Homo sapiens: one gene and its partner. The protein of the gene in region 2 interacts with the protein of the main gene of each other region in a pairwise test. Each region holds a gene or a part of one and is shown on either strand. Other genes may lie near its edges.

Evidence for each region. The genes of interacting proteins can lie anywhere in the genome.
Region 1: the proteins of LPIN1 (region 2) and FLNA interact in binary tests that used the Homo sapiens proteins (3 or more experiments, as listed by UniProt).

Annotation. Positions count from the first base shown.
Region 1 is NC_000023.11:154,357,635-154,361,285, forward strand, and holds part of FLNA (filamin-A), read right to left. Parts: intron 2,954-3,651; coding exon 2,356-2,953; intron 2,272-2,355; coding exon 2,098-2,271; intron 2,013-2,097; coding exon 1,850-2,012; intron 1,773-1,849; coding exon 1,612-1,772; intron 1,521-1,611; coding exon 1,350-1,520; intron 935-1,349; coding exon 811-934; intron 722-810; coding exon 565-721; intron 1-564. UniProt on the Homo sapiens protein: Promotes orthogonal branching of actin filaments and links actin filaments to membrane glycoproteins. Anchors various transmembrane proteins to the actin cytoskeleton and serves as a scaffold for a wide range of cytoplasmic signaling proteins.
Region 2 is NC_000002.12:11,770,525-11,774,175, reverse strand, and holds part of LPIN1 (phosphatidate phosphatase LPIN1), read right to left. Parts: intron 2,805-3,651; coding exon 2,497-2,804; intron 557-2,496; coding exon 431-556; intron 1-430. UniProt on the Homo sapiens protein: Acts as a magnesium-dependent phosphatidate phosphatase enzyme which catalyzes the conversion of phosphatidic acid to diacylglycerol during triglyceride, phosphatidylcholine and phosphatidylethanolamine biosynthesis and therefore controls the metabolism of fatty acids at different levels.

The DNA.
Region 1 (3,651 bases), on a different chromosome or scaffold from region 2:
AGGCAGGGGAGGCAGTTGGCCCAAGCCCGAGTAGCCCCGGGCCTGCCTCAGGCGCTCCCAGAGTGCCCAGCGCTGCTGCTACAGGGACAGTCTCTGGGCCTCAGGCATCTTAACTGCTATGGCCCAAAAGGGCTGCCTGCACCTGGCAGAGTCCAGAATGGAGACTAAAACATCCCACACTTCCCACATGACAACAGGCGCGGCCAGCCAGCTTGGCACCCATCCTCAGCCCCAGGGCCTGGCCAGCACTAGGAGGAGCTCACCGGGGTGATCTCAAGCTTCTATCCTATACCTGCCCCATGAGAATATTACAGGTGGGGAAACTGAGGCACAGAAGGCTTTGGTGACGTGCTCAAAGTTAGCAGCAAGTGCACGTCTGGGGAAGCCTGTGCCTGTCACCACCATCCTAAGGTAGTCACAACCTTAGCAAACCAAAGACAGGGGCCCTGTCCTTCCCTGCCCTCCTTGGTGCAGCTCCGCAGGGAGATCAGACACCAGCCACCCGCAGCCCACACTCCAGCCGCCCAGGCCCCCCTGCCTCCCCTGCCTGTGCCCGGAGCTCACCGTGATCTGGACAGCCAGCAGGCCCTCCCCGGCGTCCTTTGCATCGATGGTGAACTCCACGGGCAGGCTGGCAGGCACGCCAGTGGTGTTGAGCCCGGGGCCACTGGCCTTCACCTTGCTGGCATCATGAGTAGGCAGCACCTTGACCTTGAAGGGGCTGTGAGGGATTGGTGTTGTGAGCAGTCAGACAGGTTCTCAGCATCCAGCCTGGGCCACTCCCCACAGGCAGCAGGCCCTGCCTCTTACCTCCGGGGTACCTCTTCATCTCCATACAGTACTGAGATGCTGTAGGGCCCTTCTCGGCTGGGCACATAATTGACGGTCTGGGTGCCATCAGCGTTGTCTACCACGTCCACTGGCTCCACCAGGCCTGGCCCCAGCCCCAGGGACAGAGCATCAGCTAGTCTCCTGGGCCTCCATTCCTACCCCACCACACTGGACGGCCAGGACCCAGCCCCAGGCCTAGACCTCGCTTTATCCTCATCCACCCGACCCTGGGAATGGCCTTGACCCCCTCTGGCACGAAAGACACCCATCTGGGTGCCAGCTGGGACCCTTGCCTGCCTGCCTTCCTGCCACATCTGCTCAGTGACCAGTCCCATCTGCTCTACCTCCTCCAAGTCCCCCACCTGGCTGCACTGTCACCTGAGGCTCTTCCAAAAACACCTACACACTTGCACCACCTCTGCACTCTGGTCCTCACTTTGGGCCTCCAGTTTCCTTTCCCGGCCCTCAAACAGGACACTGCCCTCCTGACCCCTGGCTCCAGGCATGCAAACACTCACCTTTGGGCCCTTGCACTTTGACCTGCAATGGGGCCACACCAGCCTTGCTTGTGTCCACCTGGAAGGACTGAGGGAGGTTGGCACGAACCATGCCTGGGCTCAGGCCGGGCCCAGAGCACTTGACCTTGGACGCATCTGTCACATCATGCACAGGGACCTTGAAAGGACTGCCTGAGGGTTGGGGCAAAGGGATGGCGGCTGTATGAGACAGGGTGGGGACGAGCAGACAGTCCCAGCCCTGCCCTGGCCGCCACCTCCTCACCTGGCACTTGATGGCCACCATAGGTGACGTTGAGGCTGTAGGTGCCAGCCTCATAAGGGATGTACTCGACCGAGCAGCTGCCGTCCTTGTTATCCATGCAGGACATCTTGGCCTCGGAGGGGCCCTCTACAGCCAGGCCCAGGCCGCCCGTGCCAGCTCCCCTGGTCCAAACAGACAGCCGGTCATTCCTGGGGTTCCCAGGCCCACCAGCCACACGGGCTCCTGGGGGCTCCCTTACCTGGTCTCCACAGTGAACTTGTTGGGCTTGTTGGTGGTGCCACTTTGGATGCCTGGCCCGTGGACACGCACCCGGGAGGGGTCGCAGCCCTCGGTCACGGGCACCTGGAAGGGGCTGCTGGGCACGGGACTGCCGTCATAGGTCACGTCCACGGAGTGCAGTCCTGGAGGAGTGCAGGCCAGGTCAGGAGGAGCCCGGGCCACCCCACCCACCCCGTCTGCCAGCCTGTGGGAGTCCCCAGCACGCACCCTCCTCGTAAGGCGTGTACTCCACTTTGTACATGCCATCGCCACGGTCCTGAACGTAGGTCTCCGTCAGGTTGCCTGAGGGGTTGGCCACACGGGCCTTGACGTGCGGCCCTCCGGTCTGTGTCAGAGCCCGGGCGTCCACACTGAACTCAGTGGTGGCCTCACGGAAGACACCTGCAAAGGCACAGAGAGGAGGCTTGGGGCTCGGGGGTTCTGGTCCCTGTCCCCCGTCACATACCCCACGGCAGGGCAACTCACCCTGGCCCTCAATACCAGGCCCATAGCACTGGACACCGGAAGTGTCCACCGCAGGTTCCACCTGCAGCTTGCTGGGGAAGTTGGGCACGGGCTGGCCGCCGTACTTGATGGTGACGGTGTAGGCCCCGGGGCAGAGGGGAATGTAGGTAATGGTGTGCGTGCCATCACCGTGGTCCTGGATGTACACCTCGGCCGGAAGCCCCGCCTCCGAGCAGATCTCAATGGTCAGCTCCGCGCTGCCCGCGCTCGAGCAGTCCACTTGGAATTGGCCCACCTCCCCAGCGGTGGCCCGCTCCAGCCCGGGGCCTGAGCACTTGACTTTGGATGCGTCAAAGCAGGGAACCACGTGGGCCTTGAATGGGGAGCCAGGGATGTGGGTGTCAGCGAAGAGGATGTTGATGTTGTAGTCCCCGGGCTCGGTGGGCACGTAGGACACGGAACATGTGCCATCCCCATTGTCCAAGCACTCGAGCTGCGCCTCACAGGGGCCCTCCACCGTCAGGCCCAGGCCACCTGTGCCGGCGCCCTTGGTGTCGATGGTGAAGCGGGCGGGGGAGCCCGCACTGCCTCCCTGCAGCCCCGGCCCAAACGCCTTCACCTGAGGGAAGAAGGGGTCAGGAGCCAAGGCCACACTATGCCCCGATCCCAGACCTCCTGCTTGACTTTCCACCTGCCTCCCCTTGCCCTGGCTTCCTGCCCTCACCAAACAGGGACACGGGCGGGCCCAGGCTGCCTGCCAGATGGGCCATCCATCAGTCATAAGGACAAAAAGGAGGGCAGGGCGCGGTCACTCACGCCTGTAATCTCAGCCCTTTGGGAGGCCAAGGTGGGTGGATCACCTGAGGTCAGGAGTTTGAGAACAGCCTGGCCAACATGGTGAAATCTCGTCTCTACTAAAATTACCAAAATTAGCTGGGCATGGTGGCGGGCACCTGTAATCCCAGCTACTTGGGAGGCTGAGGCAGGAGTATTGCTTGAAGCCAGGAGGCGGAGGGTGCCGTGAGCCAATATCGCGCCACTGCACTCCAGCCTGGGCGACAGAGTGAGACTCTTTCTCAAAAAAAAAAAAAAAAAAAAAAAAAAAAAAAAAGAAAGAAAAAAAAAAAAAAGAAATTCTTCAACCCTGATGACTTTTTGTGGGTTTCTATTTCCCTCCTCCCCTTTACTCTCACTTAAACAGGGTCAAGGTTGACAGTCTGTCTCAGGAAAAAAAAAAAAAAAAAAGGATTTAGGGCAGGTCTGGAGAAGATGGGGTACCTTTGGGGCCCTCAGAGAGCACAGTGGGTTCTACCCTTA
Region 2 (3,651 bases):
ATTCTTGAATTCGGCAGAATGGATTAAGTGTGGCGGAGGCACCATTCTAATAGCCCTGAACGACCTCAGCAGCTCCTGAAGCAACGTCTGTTTTTGAATTTTACTTAGGGCTAAGTATCAAGAAAGGCTCTGCCACTGTGTTTTCTCCTATTAACAATTAGCATGATGTAATTTACATGTTTTTCCTTTCAAGTTCACCTCCAGGGAGCTAACAGCCATATCTGCAGATGGATTCTGACACCAGATATAAGTGTATGATCTGAACATGTTCTGTGTTTGATCCTAATCTGTACCTCCGACTCTACACCGTGTTTTTCCTGGTCCTAATTATTTTCACTTTTCATTTCTATTTCATTCTTTTCTTAGAATTGCTTCCTATCACTGACTTCTAAGCCTCTGCACTGGGCCAGGGGAACAGGGAACAGCTTACCTGGGAGTGGGTGACCACTCTCTATCCGAATTAGGGTATGAGGCTGACTGAGGGTAAATCACAGCCAGGGAGAGGTTTTCCTCAGGAATATCATCTTGGAATGGAGGTATATCATTAGGAAGAGTTCTGGAGGAAAAAAAAAAAGATTAAAGTCAAAGAATTCTTAATGATAGATTCATAATCAAGTTCCAATTTTTTCTTGATTAGCTCTAAGTGCTTTGTAATTAACATGATCTCTTTAAACACCCAGATCTGTTCCAGGCAGTGGAGGGGGAAAAAGTGAGATACCGGCATCCATAAACGTGTCTATGTGCTAATGCTTTGGCCGAATTCTAATTGTAAAATGATTTTGTTTCAGCATTTGGACTCAGACACACATGCAGTGATCACACTGCTGGATCCTCCCATCGTGCCACCTCCTGCTACCCTACACGGTCATGTTCCAAAAGCCTGGGAGGTAGAGTGGCCCCAAACCGGCCCCAGGGCGGTATAAAACCCCTGCCAGGTACAGGCAGAACTGCTGAATAACTCAATGACCATACGCTGATCACATTTTGTCTAGCAGAAGAAATAAATGGCATCAACCAAACATGCCTTACGATTACAGAATAACTGCAAATGACCTCGTTTCAGGTATAAGCACACTCACTACTAAATACAATTCACAATTTCAATCATGCAGAGGCCATCTGTCTATATGTTGATGTTACCTGGAACACCTACCACTAAATTTTGTACTTAACAGCCATGCAGAGAAGGCAATTATAAGAAGCCCAATGACGCTGGTTCTAAGCCTGTCACAGGTTAGATAGAGGCTGTAGTTGGGAAAAGCAATATTCGTTGCCAGTTGACATTTATTTTTCACCACGAAAAAAGATATATTTTATTCCAAATAATGACACAGGAAGATACTCCTGATTCCCCTTATCCCTTCTTTATGTTAACAAAATTATCAAAAATTATACCGAATTATGTAAAAATCTGAAACATCAAATATCCTTCAAAATGAATTTTATCTTTTAAAACTGGCATTTTTCACCAAAATAGTAATACATACAAACAGAATTTCACCACACTGTTAAAAGCAAAGAAAAAGGAAACAAAATTTCCATTAAACTTTGGACCTAAGTCAAAATTAAAAAGGAAAAAGTTGGCTTATAGAGAAAACAGCATTTTCTTCATTCACTTTTAAGCCTGAAATCAGCCCTTGCCTATAAATCAGCCCAGTTGTGCATCGTTGGTGCTCAAATAAGAATAAATAGGTTCCAAGAAAATGGGTTTGGTCATGAACTATTAATTTGCTCAGTTCCTGTTTCTTGACTCCATTCCAGGCTGCTAAAGCGATCAGCCAAGGAGGTTTGGCATCACCAACTGTCTCTTGGCTACAGCACAGCAAATCTTTATACCACTCTAGGATTGGGTCCACATGATTCCAAAATTCAGCCTAAAATAGGGGTCCCCAACCCCTGGGGTCCATGCCCCTGTTAGAAACTGGGCCACATGGCAGGAGGTGAGCGGCGGGCAAGCTGGCAAAGCTTCATCTGTGTTTGCAGTCGCTCCCCATCCCTCACATTACCACCTAAGCTCCTCCTCCTGCCAGATGAGTGGCAGCATCAGATTCTCACAGGAGCACGAACCCTGTTGTGAACTGCACATGTGAGGGATCTGGGCTGCGCACTCCTTGTGAGAATCTAATGCCTGATGATCTGTCACCCATCACCCCCAAGATGGGACCGTCTAGTTGCAGGAAAACAAGCTCAGGGCTCCCACTGATTCTACATGATGGCGAGTTGTATAAGTATTTCATTATATATTACAATGTAATAGTAATGGAAATAAAGAGCACAATAAATGTAATATGCTTGAGTCCTCCTAAAACCATCCACCCCTGGTCCATGGAAACACTGTCTTCCACAAAACTGGTCCCTAGTGCCAAAAAGGTTGGGGACCACTGGTCTAAAACACATAAAAGAATAAGGAATTATGGGGGAAAAGTTCATAAAAATAATCTTGAACAGTTAACTGTCTGATTCTGGCACAGCCCCTCCACCCTGGACAGTTATTACCTGCTGCTCTCCAGCAGCTCCATGGCCTCATCCGAGCTCATCTCGATGGGGAACATGTCCTCATCCTCAGATGTGTTCATGTTGTCATCTCTCTTCAGGCTGTCCAGCTGTGACTTTCTCCTCCTTTTTCTTCTCTTCTTTACTACAGAGCTGCTTGACGGCGTCTCGCTGGGAGCGATCACTTGGGCTGGCGTGCTGGGGTCCAGGCCTCTCATCCTGTCCACAGAGCCCCTTTTCAGCTGGCATTCCATTCTCGAAGCTCCTTCTGACAGGATGGGGGAGGTGGCCAGGTGCATAGGGATAACTTCCTAAGAAAAGAACACATTTTCTAAAAAGAGCCTCGTTAATTCAGGTATAAGAAGCAGGGCCTTGCCAGAGGCCTCCAGGATTCACTTCAGAGGCCAAGCACCTCCTGGGGAGGGCCACAGCAGATGGCCCAGCTAGAGGCCACAGCCATGGTGACCTGGAGATGTGGCTGCCCAATCTGGTAGAAGATCAGAAAGCCAACAATGTATTGAATGCCACTTTGTACTCAATCCTGCATTTATGTAATTTTAACAATGGGAGGTAATTCTCAGTGATCTCAAGCCCCCAAAATTCAACTTTGGCTGTAATACCCAGAGCACAGAGGAAAAAAATGGGCTTTGACTCACCATATTATGCTGGGAATTGGATGCACTCTTGCACTTCTGTGTAGATGTGGGTGTGCATGGGTGGGTGTGAGAGAAAGACAGAGAATGTGTATTGTGTATTTTTTATATGCAATGAATTAAGATAATAACCATCTAAAAACCAAAAACACGTAAAACAACCGATAGCCCCGCCCAAGAACCTGCCTGCACCAGGGCCCAAGGAGGGCCCTGAACATCGAGGAAGTAGATACTGATCCTCTCCTTAAAGACAAAAGGAAAAAACACAACCTGTCCATTTAGTAGTTGTTTGTAATGATTCAGCAGTTTTTATAAAACTCTAGTAATCATTTTATTAATGAATGCCTCATTTTGTATGAGAAACTCGTTGACAATAAGAATATACATAAAACAGAGGGGATAAATAAACGTGTGCTGCTGATCATTCAAATAGGTTTGGAGAGCATCAGACATGCTGAAATAGAATGTCTACACCTGAGACACACAGCTGAGGCTGGAAGGGAGT